2 separate regions of the Homo sapiens genome follow, and region 2 is linked to region 1. A link means that fine-mapping ties the variant in region 1 to the expression of a gene that starts in the linked region. Tissue or cell type: whole blood. Region 1 holds a variant in brackets; the other region holds the start of a gene. All regions are shown on one strand. Distances are between the middles of the regions.

Region 1 (8,099 bases):
CCTCACCTCTGCTCTTGGCCCATCCAGTGCAGAGGTTCTGCAGTCCACAGAGAGGTCTGAAGACAAAACCATGATCCGGGACCAGTAAGTTAAAAAAGCAAGGTAGAGGAAAATGTGCATAGCTATTACCATTTAAGAAGGGAAAAGTGTGTGTGTGTGTGTGTGTGTGTGTGTGTGTGTGTGTGTGTGTGTGTATGTGTTTCCTTATTGTAAAAAAAGATACAATAAATAAAAAATGAACAAATGTGGGGAAGGAAGAGGCCAGGATAGAGGGGATAGAAATAGAAGCTGAACGTCTCAGAATAGACCTCGGTGGATTTGACTTTGAAAGATTTTTACAAAGTTATCTTTTACAATACATTAACAAAGCAAGCCCTGAAAATCAAAAGCAAAAGGGAATCAACGCGTCCGTCTATCAAGTTGGTGACATTGCTACACCGGTGGGAATTATTTTAATTATTTTAAGTGACTTTAAGACGTGATAATTTTACTTACATATTCCTGGTGGGATATAGTCCAAGACCAAAAAGAAAAATCATAACTACTTTCAGTAACCATGTTGTTTGGGATTTATTGGTATTGCTATTTTGAGACTGTTGTTTGTGTCCTATGGAATAAAGCAAATGAATAAGTATTGAGGACCAGGATTATTGGTATGGGAGAAAGGAGACACAGATGTGAAATCAATGATTTCTACTACCTTGTAGTCCTCAATTTGGTTTTAGGTATTAATGTGAACTCCTGATATATGACAACTTTTTTAAAAAATGTATTTCCTAGCTCTATCCATTATAGAGAAATAAAAGACCAGCCCAATAGCACTGAACACCCAAGCCCCTAGGCTATGGCCTCTAAAGACCGTTTCCTACCAAGAGGAATCAGTGCTTCTTAGAGAAAATTTAATTCTAGGTAGGAAATGTACAAGATGAGACCAAAACACTTTGTCACACCAGCAGGCAAATGAACACTCAGAGACGACAGGGTCACACCAACAGGACACCCAGGTCAACTTGAAGATGCTCCCACTGGTCAAAATGGAACAGTTTCTCAGTGTAGCAATTGCAACAGATGGAAATAGATCTAGTAGGTTAGATTCTTCAGGATTCTTTACAAATAAATAAATCTCACGGGTCACCCTTGAGGAAGCTAAGTAACCAACTCATTATTTTGAAAACAGGAAAATAAAGCAAAAGAACTAAGCATTTTCCTGACATTTCTATATGCCCACTGCCTCAAGGTAATATGACGGGAAGTTGCACCTCATAAAGTTTTCCACCTGATAAATGAGGTAGAGGTGATGAAATATTTCTATTTTGTGATCTTTAATGAAATAATGGGTCTAGACAATGATCATTAGTGGCTGCTAACCTCCCAAAAAATTGATAAATAAAAGAGAGACAGTGGCAACGAGAGAGACCAAGAAAAAGAGAGAAAACAGACATTACCCGCATCTAACGAAAGCACCCACCACCCGCCACCTGTGAAGTATTTGCCTCCCCCCATTACACATGATCCTGACCTGGCCTCTGGATCTTACCACCATGTGTAGGATACAAAAGAGAGGGAGACAGATTAAATCTCACCATAGGGAGAAGCCAGCAAAATCCAGTCCTGGGGAAACTGTAGGACCAACGATCTGGTTTCCTCAACACATGAACCACAAGAAGATAGAAAGAGAGGGAGGAACCTCTAAATTCAAGGGGATCTAAGAGCACAATCAGCTGGTGGCAGTGTGTGCCCCACCTTCGGAATCGACTTCTTGCTCAGAGGTCCTGAGGGGAGGGTCCTGAGGAAATGGACTGCTTCCCAAGGCTCTTCCTTCCCTTTGCTGATGGCCTCCCTGTGGGAGTCCTGCAGGCTTGGCTCAGCTCCCAGTCTCTGCACTTCACTTCTGTGTGGCCTTGGCTCAGACACTGAGCCTCTCTGTGCCTCTGCTTCCTCACTTATAAGCTAGGCATGATTATTTTACCTGCCTCAGCGTATGCTTGTAAAGATAAGATAAGCAGTCCCTAACCTTTTTGGCACCAGAGACTGGTTTCCTGGAAGACAATTTTCCCATGGACCCAGGGAAGGAGGATGCTTCCGGGATGAAGCTGTTCCAGCTCAGATCATCAGGCATTAGATTCTCACAAGGAGCGTGCAGCCTCCATCCACATGCGCAGGTCACAACAGGGTCCACACTCCTGTGAGAGTCTAATGCCACCACTGACATCATGGGAGGCGGAGCACTGGAGGCTCTGGCAGTCATGCTCGCCCGGCCACCACTCACCTCCAGCTGTGCGGCCCAGTTCCTAACAGGCCACAGACCGGTACCGGGTTGGGGACCCTGCTTTAAGCAGTCGCTTCTCCTTCCCTGGCCTCGCCCCCAGCAGCCAATAACGTACTTCCTGTCTCTATGGATTTGCCTGTCCTGCATACTTTGTGTCAATGGAAGGAGGTATTATGTGGGGTTTGTGTCCGGCTTCTTTCGCTGAGCATAATGTTTTCAAGGTTCAGCCATGCTGCAGCTCGTATCAGAACCTAGTTCCTTTCAGGGCCAAATAACATTTCACTGTGTGGGTGGACCACGTTTAGCCACTCAGCAGCTGACAGACACTTGGCGGTTGCACTTTGGGGCTGTTGTCAGTGTGCTGCCGGGCACGTCTGTGTGCAAGGCTTTCTGTGGACAGATGTTGATTCTTAGGGTGTCTGCCCAGCAGTGGGATTGCTGGGTCACGCATGCAGCAGCTCTGCTCGCCTTTCTGGAGGCCACGAGCCTGTTTTCCACGGCGGCTCTGCGGGCCTCCTGTTGAGGAAGCCCTGGCGAGTGGGGGCTCCTCTGCCAAGCATTAAATACGGACTCACCACTGGGGACGGACTTGGACTCCAGGAGCCCCCAGGAGGCTCCCTCTGTGCCGACGCCCGTGGGCTGCAGACGGGTGGGTGACTGTGGGACCCTTGCTCAGCCTCCAGCTTTGGGGCTGATGGCTCTGCCCCCAGGGAGTCTGTGCAGCCCTCCTCCAGACCCCAGTCCCCTTGGACCAGGGGCAAAGCTCATTTCCCTCATCCCTCCCGCCCCTAGCCTGCTGGGGTGGGAGGGACGAGGCTCCTGCCCGGCCGGCCCTGGGGCTGGGAGGCAGGTGTGGGAAGTGCAGGTGGGTGGTTTGGTGTGTTTGGCAAGCCGACCCAAACTCCCATTACATGCTATGGAAACCCTTGCAGGCCCCAGATCTCTAAATTTTTTTTCTGTCCCCCACAGCCCTACCTTCATGGGGACTGCCCCCCAACCCCACTCCCGCAGTTCTACCCCCATGCCCCACCCCCACACCCGTTCATGTGACCCAGATCCATCTCCTTGGAGCCCCCCGCCCCCAGGTGAAATTGAGCATGCCTCCTGTTCTCACTAGACAGAGGCTCCGAGGGAGCAGGCGAGTCCTCTCTTGTCAGAGGCCACATCCCTGCACCTGCGCAGCACGGCACATCCTGGGGCTCAGCGTCCTGCGTGGAACATACTCAAGTCCATCCACATCCTCTGCCTCAGAGACAGCAGGCCCTAAGCGTGCTTCCCCGGGACCCTCCCTGGGCTTCTACCGCCTGCCACACTCCACCTGTCCCCCTGCATCCAGGAGGGCAGCACACACCTCCCGGGGCCTCTGCCATCCGGCCCAGGGCCACCACCTCCCAAGGCCCCCCAGGACCTGGCCAGCCCAGGTTGCCCCGTTTCTGCTGCTGGTGAGGTGGGGCTGGGCTGACAGGAACCCCAGGAGATCTGCAGCGGCCCCGCCTCCCAGGCCTCCCCCATGCTGAGCTTGCCCACCTCAACAGACGCCCTAGCGTGTGCTCCGGAGAGACACTGAAATGAACTTGGTCCCCCTTCCTCACCCATTAAGTTCTTCCCCCGAGGCCAGAATCCATCGCAGGCAGGCCCTGCAGAGCGGCAGGAGCGGGCGGCGCTGGCTTCACTCCGCGGTCATTTACTTC[C/T]GCTTCTGGGCGCCCTTTCTTGCCTCTACACATCTTGCTCTTGGTCGCACGTGCTGAGTCTCGGAGCTGCAGGAGCTTGCCAACTGCCCACCTCCGCTCCTCTCTCCTGATGCCCTGTTTGTTGATGGTGCAGGAACCCGCTGCTGCAGTTAGGAAATTGAAATGTCAGTCGGGAGGGCTCCTGGAGTGGGGTTTGAAGCTGAGCTCTGAAGGCCTCGAGGGCAGGGAAAGGGAAGAACTCTGGGAAAGAGGGCCGGGGTCTCGCCCCTCCTGGAGGCACTGGCTACCCTCAACTCTTGGGGGAGCTTTTGTGAATGGAGTTTGCTTGAAATCGATCTTCTCAGCCTCCTCACCAGCCTCACACTGGCGTTATGTCCCTGGTAGACCAGGCGGCCAAAGCTTCCTTCCTGTGGCTGCCCTGACCACATCTGGCACTGGGAACATGCCCTGCACTTGAGGATAAATAAAAGTGAAATTTCAATTAAAAGGATAAATCATGGTGATGGGTCCTCGTGGTGACCAGCAAAGACCTGGCCCACTTCCAGGCTGAATTTCAACTGAGAAGCAGCCATTTCTTTGTAAAAAGTTGTCCATTTTAGCGAGCAGTGAAGTCTCGAGGGAAGAGCCCCAGGCCTCTGTTAGCAGAGCCTGTGCTCAAATCCCTGCACCTGTAGAGCCTGCACCCCCTCCAGGACGGGTGAGTCCCTTGGCCACAGCCAGGCCTGACACCCCGAATGCGCTACTCCCTGACCTTCCATTAATACCAGCTTTTCGCTAGCTTCTGGTCTTATGCTTCACCTGAACCATGCAGCAGGTCCCTGTCCTCATCAAACTTTGATGCCGAACAAAGCAAATGTCCGGCAGGCCACAGTGCAGCCTCCTCCCCCTCAGGACCCCAGGCCCACCCTGCACACCCTCATGTGGTCCCTCCAGGCTCCTGGGCGGGGTGGGGGGACAGGGATTTCTCCGCAACATACCACCCCTGCAGTGGGATTCCCAGCGTTAAGGGGAGAAGGTGTCACTGGCACGTGGTGTGCACAATTCTGAATCCTCCAGCCTCTCCAGCATTTGCCTTCATTCCCACAGAGGCCGAGAGGCTCATGGCTTCCAGAAGGCTATGAGATGTGGCACAGGCACCCGACAGGTAGGACTGGCTGGAAGCCTCGGGCCTGGGCAGGAGCGGCTGGAGCCTGCCTGCATCCACTTCCTCCTTCCATCTCCTTTGACCAGGAGACCACCTTGCCCACTCATCCTGCAAGTTGGGTGGATGCTGCTGCCAACCCAGGCCTGGTAGATGTACCCATTCCAACCTCCAGCCATGGCAGCTGCTTCAAGGCTGGGGTAAGAGCCAATGAGTGTCTGCCCCAGGACATTTGACGGAGCTGTCTGGAAACAGCCACCTTCCCTACTGAGGCAGGGAGCTGGTGGGTCAGAGCAGGGGCACTGGGGCCAGGACACCTGGGTTCTGGATCCCAGCTCAAGGGCTTGTGAGCTGTGTGATCTTGGGTGAGTGACTCAACCTCCCTGTGCTGCAGTTTCCTCATCTGTAACAGGGAAGGGCTGCATATGAATGGCCTTGTCTGTATTAACGGCACTGCCTTGGGTTGTGGTGATGAGTAAGTGAGTGGATGGATGTAATGTGACTAGTGTACTAGTTCATTTTCACACTGCTGTAAAGATACTATCCAAGACTGGATAGTTTACAAAGGAAACAGGTTTAATTGACTCACAGTTCCACAGGGCTTGGGAAGCCTCAAGAAACTGACAATCAGGGCAGAAGGCGAAGGGGAAGCAAGGACCTTCTTCACATGGAGGCAGGAGAGAGAAGTGCGAGCAGGGGACACGCCAGACACTTATGAAACCATCAGATCTCGTGAGACTCACTCACTCTCATGAGAACTGCATGGGGGAACTGCCCCCATGATCCATTCATCTCCCACCAGGTCTCCCTCTCAACACCTGGGTATTACAATTCAAGATGAGATTCGGGTGGGGACACAAAGTCTAACCATACCACCTGGGGTACTGCCTGGCACTGCAAACTAGTTAGGGAAGCATCCGTTGTCATTACCATCATCACTGGTTCTACGACCTCTTATTTCTGTGCCCCTGACACTGATGCTATTACTAGTACTGTCAAAATTGTAATGTCAGCCTATTGCTGTTACCCCTGGGGCTGCTAGGCTGATGGGATGTAAGCACAGAAGTGTGAGGCAGCAGAAGGGGAGAGAGTACCTGCGAGTCTGAGGGGTGGGCTGAGCAAGTGCTGAGAGCCCCGTCAGAATGGTCACCCTCATAATGGACTGAGCACGGTACTCAGCCCCCATGAGTGAGTGAACACAGTACTCAGCCCGCATGATCCAGCCATGCCTGAAACCCACACCACTCCAGGATAGGAGCCAGCACATTGCCTTTTTGCTTGAGCCAGTTACATTGGGATTTCTGACGTTTCCAATGGACGAGACCTAAAAGTGCCATCATGCAGTAAAAACCTAAATTAAATCATTTTATTCTTGTGGTCTGGGACCTCCAGGCTGGATATACAGATATTTATTGCCCCTTGTCCCTTGTTTCATTCAATCATCCACTCTGGTTTGCAGAGCACTTTCTGTGTGTCTACTAGTATGCAGAGCTCTCCGGGGGAGACAGCAAACATAGTATTCCGGCATTATTACTGATTAAATTAATGATTAAACCAATATTCAGCCCACATTTAGTGACATAGCATAGTACTCAGGCCTCATTACTGACAACACAAAAAGCCCAGATTTATTCACAAACATCAGTATTCAGCCTTCATTTATTGACAAAGCTCAGTATTCAACCCACATTACTAAGCAAGAGTACTCAGCCTTCATTACTGACTGAGCACAGTACTGAGCCCTCATAACTGACCAAGCACAGTACTCAGCCCTTATAACTGACTGAGCACAGTACTCAGCCCCCATGGTGACTGAGCACAGCACTCGGCCATCAGCATCGAATTACAGACACTGCAGATCCTCAGTTACCATCTTTCATATACTCTTGGCAACAGCTCTGCAGGCTGGATTTAAAAAATCCCATTTCCAGATGAGGAGATAAAACCATTTCCCAAAGTGAAGAGCCAGTGAGGAGGCGCCCCCTCCTCTTCGTCTATGGGAGCACTGCCTGGAGGCACAGGGTGCAGGAGTGGGAGACATCCATTCTGGCAGGTCTCCTTCCTATTGGCCCAGCGTGGGTCACATGTCCTTCCTAGCCAATCACAGTGCCCAGGGAGGTGCACTCTCATTGGTCCACGTGGGGTCCCATGGCTGTCCTGGGGCCAGGTGGGATGGTTCCCCCACACAGTCCATGCAGAGCAAGGGTGGGCCGGGGTGATTTCCAAAGACTGGCAGAAGTGGGTCTCGGCAGGCAAAGCCAGGGCTGACGGCAACCTCCTTCTCGGGCCTGACTCCAGCCTCATGGCTTCCTTGCTGCCCCTAAATGCCCTCCTTTGCTGCCCCTTGCCCCCCCTCACTCAGCTGCCTCTCCTTCTGGGGCCTGTGGCCTAGGATCTGGGGCCTGGGGTCTGGGGTCTGGCCTCCATCTTTTCTGCTGGACACTGGCCCCCTTGGGCTCCCACTACACCTGCACCTGTGCTCCAGCCCAGGCAGGGTCTAAGCTCCCTGCATCTTCCAGCCCGGCCCCCAAGGGACAGGACCCTGCTCCCGTATCCCCAGCAGTGTGGCACATTTACAGGGGCAGACAGGTCCTGTTAGAGGAAAGTAGACGCTGTGTGACAAGACCTTCCAGAGACAGGTGGGGACGCGTGCATTAAATATCAATGAAGGTTTTCTGACGAGACTCCTGACTTCTCATGTTGGAGCCAGAAAATGACAGGGACTAATCAGGGGATGGCATGGGCGACACCTCTGAGGGCGAACACGCTGCGCTACAGGTTGACACTTGGCGCTGCCTATCCCCGCAGCCTCACGGGCTGAAACAACAAAGAACCCGTCTCGGCTTTGGACTTGGCTTTAGCTGTGTGGCTCTCTGATAGGCAGGATTATTCCTAGCCCGAGTCAGAAGCAGAAGCTGCCTCCACTCTGGCTTCTGTGCAGTGACAGCTCTTGTTAGCCATCAAGTTCAAGGAGCTCCTTGGACGCCTCACATCTGCC
Region 2 (8,099 bases), 110 kb before region 1:
ACCGTGGCTCCAGGCAGCAGCAGCCCCAGTGCCAGCTGGGGCTCTGGAGGTGGCTTCTTTTGCTGTCACTGTGCTCGGCTGGAGCTGTAAAGGGGCAGATGCTCCTCACCTGTGAGCCACCCCTTGGCTGGAGCTGTAAAGGGGTAGATGCTCCTCACCTGTGAGCCGCCCCTTGGCTGGAGCTATAAAGGGGCAGATGCTCCTCACCTGTGAGCCGCCCCTTGGCTGGAGCTATAAAGGGACAGATGCTCCTTCCCTGTGAGCCTCCCCTTGGCTGGACCTGTAAAGGGGTGGACACTCCTCACCCATGAGCTGCCTCTTGGCTGGACCTGTAAAGGGGTGGACGCTCCTCGCCTGTGAGCCTCCTCTTGGCTGGAGCTGTAAAGGGGTGGACGCTCATCACCTATGAGCTGCCTCTTGCCCTGAGCTGGGGCTTTGGGGGCAGGACCCAGCAGGAGGAAGTGTCCCATCCTCACTGGAGGTCTGAGTGCTGCTTTTCACCTGTCCACAGGCACCCACTAAGGTAATCCCCATGGGCTTGTCTACAGAATAGTGCAGGCTTGTGTCCCGCAAAGAAAGACTCACCAAAGCCCTTCGCTTCATCTAATAGCTGAGGTTGGATCAAGTGTGGTGTTCACACCTGTAATCCCAGCACTTTGGGAGGCCGAGGCAGGAGGATCATCTGAAGTCAGGAGTTTGAGACCAGCCTGGCCAACATGGTGAAACCCCATCTCTACTAAAAATACAAAAATTAGCTAGGTGTTTGGTGGGTGCCTGTAATCCCAGCTACTAAGGAGGCTGAAGCAGGAGAATTGCTCAAACCTGGGAGGCAGAGGTTGCAGGGAGCTGAGATCCCACCACTGTACTCGAGCCTGGGCAACAGAGTGAGCCTCTATCTCAAAAAAATAAATAAATAATAAATAAAATCCAAGGTCCTTGATGTATAACTGACCTTGAGGCTGTGGAATGTGGTTCTTGGGCAGGCATTCACCAGGTAGAGGAAACCCTCTGCACCCTCGTCATGGCCCACTGGCTGCCAGTGCCAGCAGCTTCTTCCCATCCCTGCTCCTCAGCATGCTGGGCCATGAGCAGGGCAGGGCGTCAGGGCAGGGTGGCAGGAGCAGCTCCTCCTGCTTGGCAGAGATGAGTAAAGCACTCAACATGCACCAAGTCCCCCTTGACTTGTCCCCACTGCTGCTGCTGTCACAGGACAAAGGCAGGGGAGCGGGAGCAGCCCAGGACAGCCACAGGGCCATGAGCACCATGCCACCGGGAGCTAGTGACAACACAGGGTGGACAGGACAGAGAGTGGCCCAGTACTGGGCAGGACCAGCCACAGACGCTGCTGCTCTCTGAGCACGGGGACTCTTTGCAGTGGCGCCCATCACTTGGGCAGCTGGAAGCACAGTTTCCCCCCACAGATATTTCGTGGGGTTTTTTTGGTTTTTGGTTTTTGGTTTTTTGTCGTTGTTTTTTTGTTTGTTTGTTTGTTTTTTTGAGATGGAGTCTCGCCCTGTCACCGAAGCTGGAGTGCAGTGGTGCGATCTTGGTTCACTGCAACCTCTGCATCCTGGGTTCAAGTGATTCTCCTGCCTCAGCCCCCTGAGTAGCTGGGATTACAGGCGCACACCACCACACCTGGATAATTTTGAATTTTTCATAGAGGCAGGTTTTCACCATGTTGGTCAGGCTGGTCTCGAACTCCTGACCTTAAGGTGATCTGCCGGCCTCGGCCTCCCAACGTGCTGGGATGACAGGCGTGAGCCACCATGTCTGATACTTGGTTTTAATAAGTGTGCATCACCGCCCTGCCCCCCGCCCCCAGCCCCCAGTGTGCTCAGGTAGCCGTGAACCAGGTGTTGGGCTAGTTTAGTGGAAGGGACTGACATGGAGACAGGAGAGTGGGCTCTGGCACTGTGAGGGAGGCCGAGGAGCCCACCGCCTGAGGTCAAGTCCTGCCTGTGCCACAGAAGGCCCTGATGTCCCCTACAACCTCACACATCACATCCTCAGCACCCTACCAATGCTGGCCTCTGTGGGTAGCGTCCCCTGTGAAGGGATGCGGCCCTTTACTGTAGCCACGCTGACCTGGTCCCAGAGAAGGCAAGGGAGCACCCACACTGTGGGGGTGGGGCTGGTTAGGACCCACCCGGAAGACTGAGCCGCTGGGTCCTGCTGCCTTCCCCAGGGCAGGGTGAAGGGTATATGCTGTCCAAGGGGCCCTGCCTTCCAGACCCCACTCTGCCTCCGGGGGAAGCCCAAACCTGCCCTTCTCGGCATCCCTGCCTCTCCTGTAAGGCGCTGCCAAGCCACACTCGAGTCACTGTTCTTCCTGGATCATGCCAAGGGTGGGAGCCTGGTCCCTCTGGGTGTTGAAGGAGATAATTCAGGTGTGATGAAAAGGAATGCTCCTCTCTGGCTCTGGACACACCCAACACAGAAGGAGGCAGGTGCCTGCTAAGGCTGACGCTGGTTAGAGGCAGTGCCAGGACAGTGCCGTCCCATATCCCAGGCCGTGCTTCCCTTCCTGGAACAGGCCAACCTCGATCACAGCCAAGCACCACCTGCACAGGCTCACAGGGCAGAGCGCTGCAGGGGCTACCCGACTGGGTGTCCTAAGGTGAACAGAAGCCTTTCAATGGGACATTAACTTGAACCGAAGCCAGAGGAGCCTGCATGACACTGTGTGAATTAGCTTACTCAACTGAAACAGGGCATTTGAGTGCAGGAGACACTAGGCTAACAGGCCACCCTACACCCCTGCACACACACACTCTCACCAGCTGCGGAGGAGGCTGCACCCACCATCCCGGGCTCCCAGCGACAGCTGGCTCTATCTTGGACTTCACTGTTCCTGCTGTCAGGCTGGGGATGGAACTCTCTGTCTGCTGCTTGTTGGAGCTCTTCCAGCCCAGGGTGTTGGTTAGTGGGTGAAGCAGGGGTCTTCTCTCCTCGCCCTGCCCCCTGCCCTGCACCAGATGAAAGAGCACACTCAGCATCACGAGTGGCTCTAAGTGTGATGAGAGAAGGACCCTCCCTGGCCACACTCGTGCTAATAGGAAGTGCTGGCGAAAGCAAATGATCAAAATCGTATCCCAGCCTCTTCATGTCACCTGCAGCCAAATGGCTTTGCATCTGAAAGCCACACATAATTGTCAGCATCCATGGGTTCTAATCAGAGATTTTTTTTTTTAAGTCTTGGTAGTTTTTGTTCATTGCTAATACAGAGAAGGATGCAAGCCACTGTTTAGTGTCTGGATGTAAAAGAACATTTCTGTGCCGTGTGGCCTCATTGCAGAATCTTCCAAGGTACGAGTCAGCCACGGAGGCCTGTGAGGTTTTTATTCCTTGCTTTCAAAAACACAAGCTGTTTTTCCCCTGGAAGAGCATGTAATGTGCAAAAACATTAGCAATATTGCAAAATGCTTGCGTGAAATAACTGTGGAAATATTTCACTAACTACATTAACCTTCGCTGGCTTTTCTTCCCCTCCCAACCCAAAGAGAGATAATTTCTCGGGAGTCTTTATCTCGTTCCTCTGTATAATTGCCGCTTTAAATCACAAAAGCCTTTAGAGTTATGGATGCAAAACGCATGGAGCTATGTTTAGGCTGTGCTCACCTGCAAAGCTGTGCGATCCAATGTCCCCCCAGAAGAGAAACCAAAGGAAGAGCGTGGGGAAAGCTGGTGTCTCTCTCGAGGTGTTTCCGAGCAGCCGTGTTAATATCATACGACAAGATGGGGCCCTGTCTCTCGTCACTTCCTTTTGTTCTTTCCTTCTGAAGAGTGGATAATTCCTGGCAGTTTCTGTTTCGCTTGTAATTGTTTTTTAAATTAAGATAAACCTTGCAGCCCTGACTGTTGAGATGAAGGCGCGGCTGGTGGGGAAGCACCTTGCTTTTGTGAACAGCAGAAAAGGTGATAAGACATTGCGGTGTGCTCCCTCCCAGAGTTTAAGCACCGCAGTTACCACTTTGCACCATGCTCATGGGTGAGCGGGCGTCTTCCTTCTTGCAAGTTCCTCCCATGTCTCAGTAACGGAGAAGGAGGCGGTAGTGGAGGGCAGTCGGCGGTGGGGGTTGGGGAGTGCCGCCTGCTGTTTGGCAGCATCGCCCGTGTGTCTGCAGGGCCCTCCTGCCTTCGGGTGGAGGGCATGTTCACGTAAGTTGACTCATGTTTTGGGCGAACGTTGGTGGTGAGAGGAGCTGAAGTCTCCCCATCTCTCAAGGATGCAGCAGCCAGGTTTAGTTCTGTGCTCTATGGGCCGCACCTCCTGGCCCCCCATCCTGCTCCGGATTCCACAGCTTGGTCTTGACTCACCAGGAAGCAGGGCAGCAACTTGAGAGTGATGCAGGGGACACGTGCAGGGGTGCAGAGTGTAGGGGTGCAGGGGTGCGAAGTGTAAGTGTGTAGGGGTGCAGGGATGCAAGATGTAGGGGTGCAGAGTGGAGGGGTGAAGGGGTGGAGAATGCAGGGGTGTAGGGGTGCAGGGATGCAGAGTGGAGGGGTACAGAGTGGAGGGGTATGGGGTGCAGAGTGTAGGGGTGCAGGGGTGCAGAGTACAGGGGTACAGAGTAGGGGTGTACAGTGCAGGGGTGCAGCATGCAGGGGTGCAGAGTGCCATTCCTAAGCCATCGTCTTGTGTCTGTGTTCTGTGTATTTGCTTGCATGCTTTTCTCTCCAGCGTGATTTTCTGATCCGTGGATACACACAGGCTCCTCCCTATTCAGCTAAACCTCCCAGCTGCCTCTAAAAGCTGGGGATTGTAGGGGTCGGGGAGGCGTGTTCTCTCATTGTACCATCACATTGAATTGTCTCAAACACCCTGCCAGGTAGAGGTGGTTATTTCCCTTTGACATGAGACAGTAACCATTAGCTTGGTGGCTTCCCTTGGTCCAGTGAGTCATTAAACCTGACTTGTTGGCTACAGGCGAGTGCCTGGTGGTTTCTGGGCATTGTGCTTGGTCAGATCCGACGTTCCGAGGGTTCAGCTCTCCAAGGCCACACCATGTGTCCCCCCGGCTCCCTGCCCTGAGCTCCTCCCGAGGTAGCTTGCCACTCTTGCACCCTCCAGTAGCTCTAGCACAGAGTAGGAGCTAAGCGCACAGTGGGACTCAGTGACCTGAAGCGGGAGGTGAATTGAATGCCTCCAGGATGAGTATGTCTCTTCTCAGCAGCCAGAAGGGTCCAGTCCAGAGGCTGCCCTTCACTGAGAGCATGCTTTGCTCTCTAAGGAAAGCCCAGAGCTTTCTTTCACCATCTTCTAATGTGCATTCAGCAGAAGCTGTAACTCACTAGAAATGGATGGAATTAAGGCCAGGCATGGTTGGCCAGGCTGCTGGACAGTCCTCTCCAGAAGAGGAGCCCACCCCGGCCTGGAGGATGGACACCAGGGGCTCTCCCTCTGCCTCCAGCCCTCCTGCTTCTCAGTGTCTAAATCATCAGAAAAAAAATCATTTCTGGTTCATTGACCTTTCTGCAAATTATAATTTACACCCAAGGGTAAAATGTCATATAACTTTTATGCATTTAGCTGGGCTTTTTCACTGCTATCTTAAAAAACAATTCTTTATCAAGACTTCATGTCAGAATTGCACAGGGATAATTACCTCAGGAGAAACGCTTCATTTGCATAATGCACCATGCACATTTCCCCTTGGGGCAGTGTTGTTGAGGGCTGGTGATATGCTTCTCTGGAAGGGGGCATTGGTGAGGCTTGGGGATCGGTCAAGGACCTCGTGAAGTATCAATCACCTCCAAACTGACTTCATTACCAGCTTTTTTCCCCAGCCACAAATTAAATCATCAGAGTGGATATTGGATGGGCAGGAATCTTGACAAATTCCTGCAGGACCCGGCCCGCTGTGTGGCATCCCTTCCCTGGCTGTGGGAGGCTCCATGGCCCACACTCTCCATTGGCCCTTTCAGAGAAATGGGGTGTGCTGGAGAGTGGGGGCCCTGGGCTCTTTCCTGCTCAAGGACAGAAGACAGAAACCTCACAACCTCCACCTTCAGGCACCTCACCGTCCAATGTGAGAGAAAGAACAAACTGAGATTGCACAGAGATTTAGGAAGCCTTTGCAGAGAAACATACAGACAAGCACGCCCCAGGCCAAGAAGAAATGGCAGATTATTTTGGAAGTATCCATTAAAATTACTTCTTTAGATGCAGGACCTGCTTTGGGGTTTTTTTTCTTTGTAAGTGACATTGTATTTATTGCAGAAAAGAAGCCATGGTTGGAAAGTCAGGACTATCTCTCAATGCTGTGGAAGGGCTGCTGATGAACAACAGAGACGACCTCTAGCCCAGCGTGCTGGTCATGCCAGCCGCCGTCATCAGCACTCACTGCTACACACATGTTGACATATCCTTGGCACAGAGCCCACTCATCCTTCCAGAAGTGAGGAAGGATTTCACCTCCTCAGGCCTCTGAAGTTAGAGGCGACCACATGACTTGTCTTGGCCAATGAAATGGAAGCAGGACCCAGGTGCATCCCCCCAGGAGGGGCCTTACCAGGCTGTGTCTAATCCCTTGTGGCCAGTCTCTGCACTGGCCATCGTGGAAGCAGAAAAACAAGCCTCTTCCACTCTGTCCCAAGGACTCTGCAGGGCAGGGCGCCCCCCCACCCCCCACGCATGCACAGTGGACATGTCATGTGCATGGACCAGCATCACGCTCTGCTCTTTCAAGTGACAAGATCTGGGAGCAGTTTGGTACTCCTAACCCAGCCTGCACTGACAGATACACCCTGAATTTCCAACAATGCCTTTCATCCAAGGAAAGCAGAAATTTTGTGGGGGTCCCGTGATCACCTCCCCTCTAGGACTTCTCAGACCCTCTGATGTGCATTGAAAATTTCCAAGAAGAGAGAAGACGTTCCTGGGACGATGCTGTTGTGACCTGAGAGTATCCGCTGATTCTTTCCTCGTGCTCTTTAGAAACAGGATTTGGATCAGGAACGGCCACCACAGACATCCTGGGTCCTGCTTGCTTTGGACTGACCCCTGGCTGAGGAAGAGGACGCTGTAGAAGACATTAGAAAGTGGAATGGTGATTTTCCTTCTGCACAAGGGCAGACCTCACTCTTCATCACCGATCACCATGAGTCTGGTCATGTGTCCCCGACTCCCAGAGGATCAGAGTCCTTGTTTTTCCCGAAGAAGTCCTCAGCAATATCCTCACACGGCTTCATGGAGCCCTGGTCAGCCTGGAGGGAAGTGGACCCTTGGTCTCAGTGGTGGCTGCTCCCCTGCCCAAGGGCAGCCTCACTGGGTGAGGAGCCCCTGCACCTCCTCCGGACCCCCGTCCTGGCTCCTCAGCACCGGGCAGGCCCCTCCCGGGGCCCTCTGAGCACCGTGCGCCATGGGGCAAGCAGTGCAGCTGCCGTTTAAATGAGTGGGTTCTGGCTCTGTCGTTTTCCTCCCCAGGGCCTGCAGCCTCCTCCGGGCTTGGCTTCCCTTTGCTCAAGGCAGGGTTGGCCTGGGCCCTGCTGAGGGACTGGGCATGATGGGCACCTGAGACCCTAGGAGCTTCCATCCTCACTTTACAGATACCCCAAGCACCTGCTCTTCTCGAGGGTTCCCTGAACAGCTCAAAAATGCATGAGAAGTGAACGCACCTGGGACAAGAGGGCTGACAGGGAGAGGTTTCCTGGGCAGGGCTGTGCGGTGCAGAGAGAAGAGAAAATCTATTTGCATTTCCTGAGTTACTTCTTATTTACTCTAGAAAACATAGTTGGCAGCCAACCAGAGTGTGTTTACAGAGGGATCTGGGCTGGGAAAATTCAGGGTCATCTTTGGATTCAGCCCTAGAAACCTGGAAGTGAACATGAGCCAGACGTGCAAGCGGCTGGCGGCTCCATGCGGCAGGTGGGGTGGGTCCCCATGCAGGGGGCACAGGATGGAGGCTCCATGTGGCAGGGGGGTAGGTCCCCATGCAGGGGGCACAGGATGGAGGCTCCATGTGGCAGGGGGGTAGGTCCCCATGCAGGGGGCACAGGATGGAGGCTCCATGTGGCAGGGGGGTAGGTCCCCATGCAGGGGGCACAGGGTGGAGGCTCCATGCGGCAGGGCGGGTGGGTCCCCATGCAGGGGGCAC

What was found. PIP is the estimated chance that this variant, and not a neighbour inherited with it, causes the effect.
Region 2: it holds the start of CDH4-AS2, and the variant in region 1 is fine-mapped to the expression of CDH4-AS2 in whole blood (INTERVAL, PIP 0.92).

What each region holds. Positions count from the first base shown.
Region 1 is chr20:61,826,817-61,834,915 of GRCh38, forward strand. The region is part of intron 4 of CDH4 (cadherin 4); the gene reads left to right. Among named protein-coding and RNA genes, the nearest start is that of CDH4-AS1, 76 kb to the left of the region's middle. The variant C/T (reference allele first, on the strand shown) is at 3,961.
Region 2 is chr20:61,716,009-61,724,107 of GRCh38, forward strand. CDH4-AS2 (CDH4 antisense RNA 2) reads right to left here and starts at 3,740. Exons shown (of 2, transcript NR_147702.1): 1 at 3,622-3,740; 2 at 1,498-3,378. The region is part of intron 2 of CDH4 (cadherin 4); the gene reads left to right.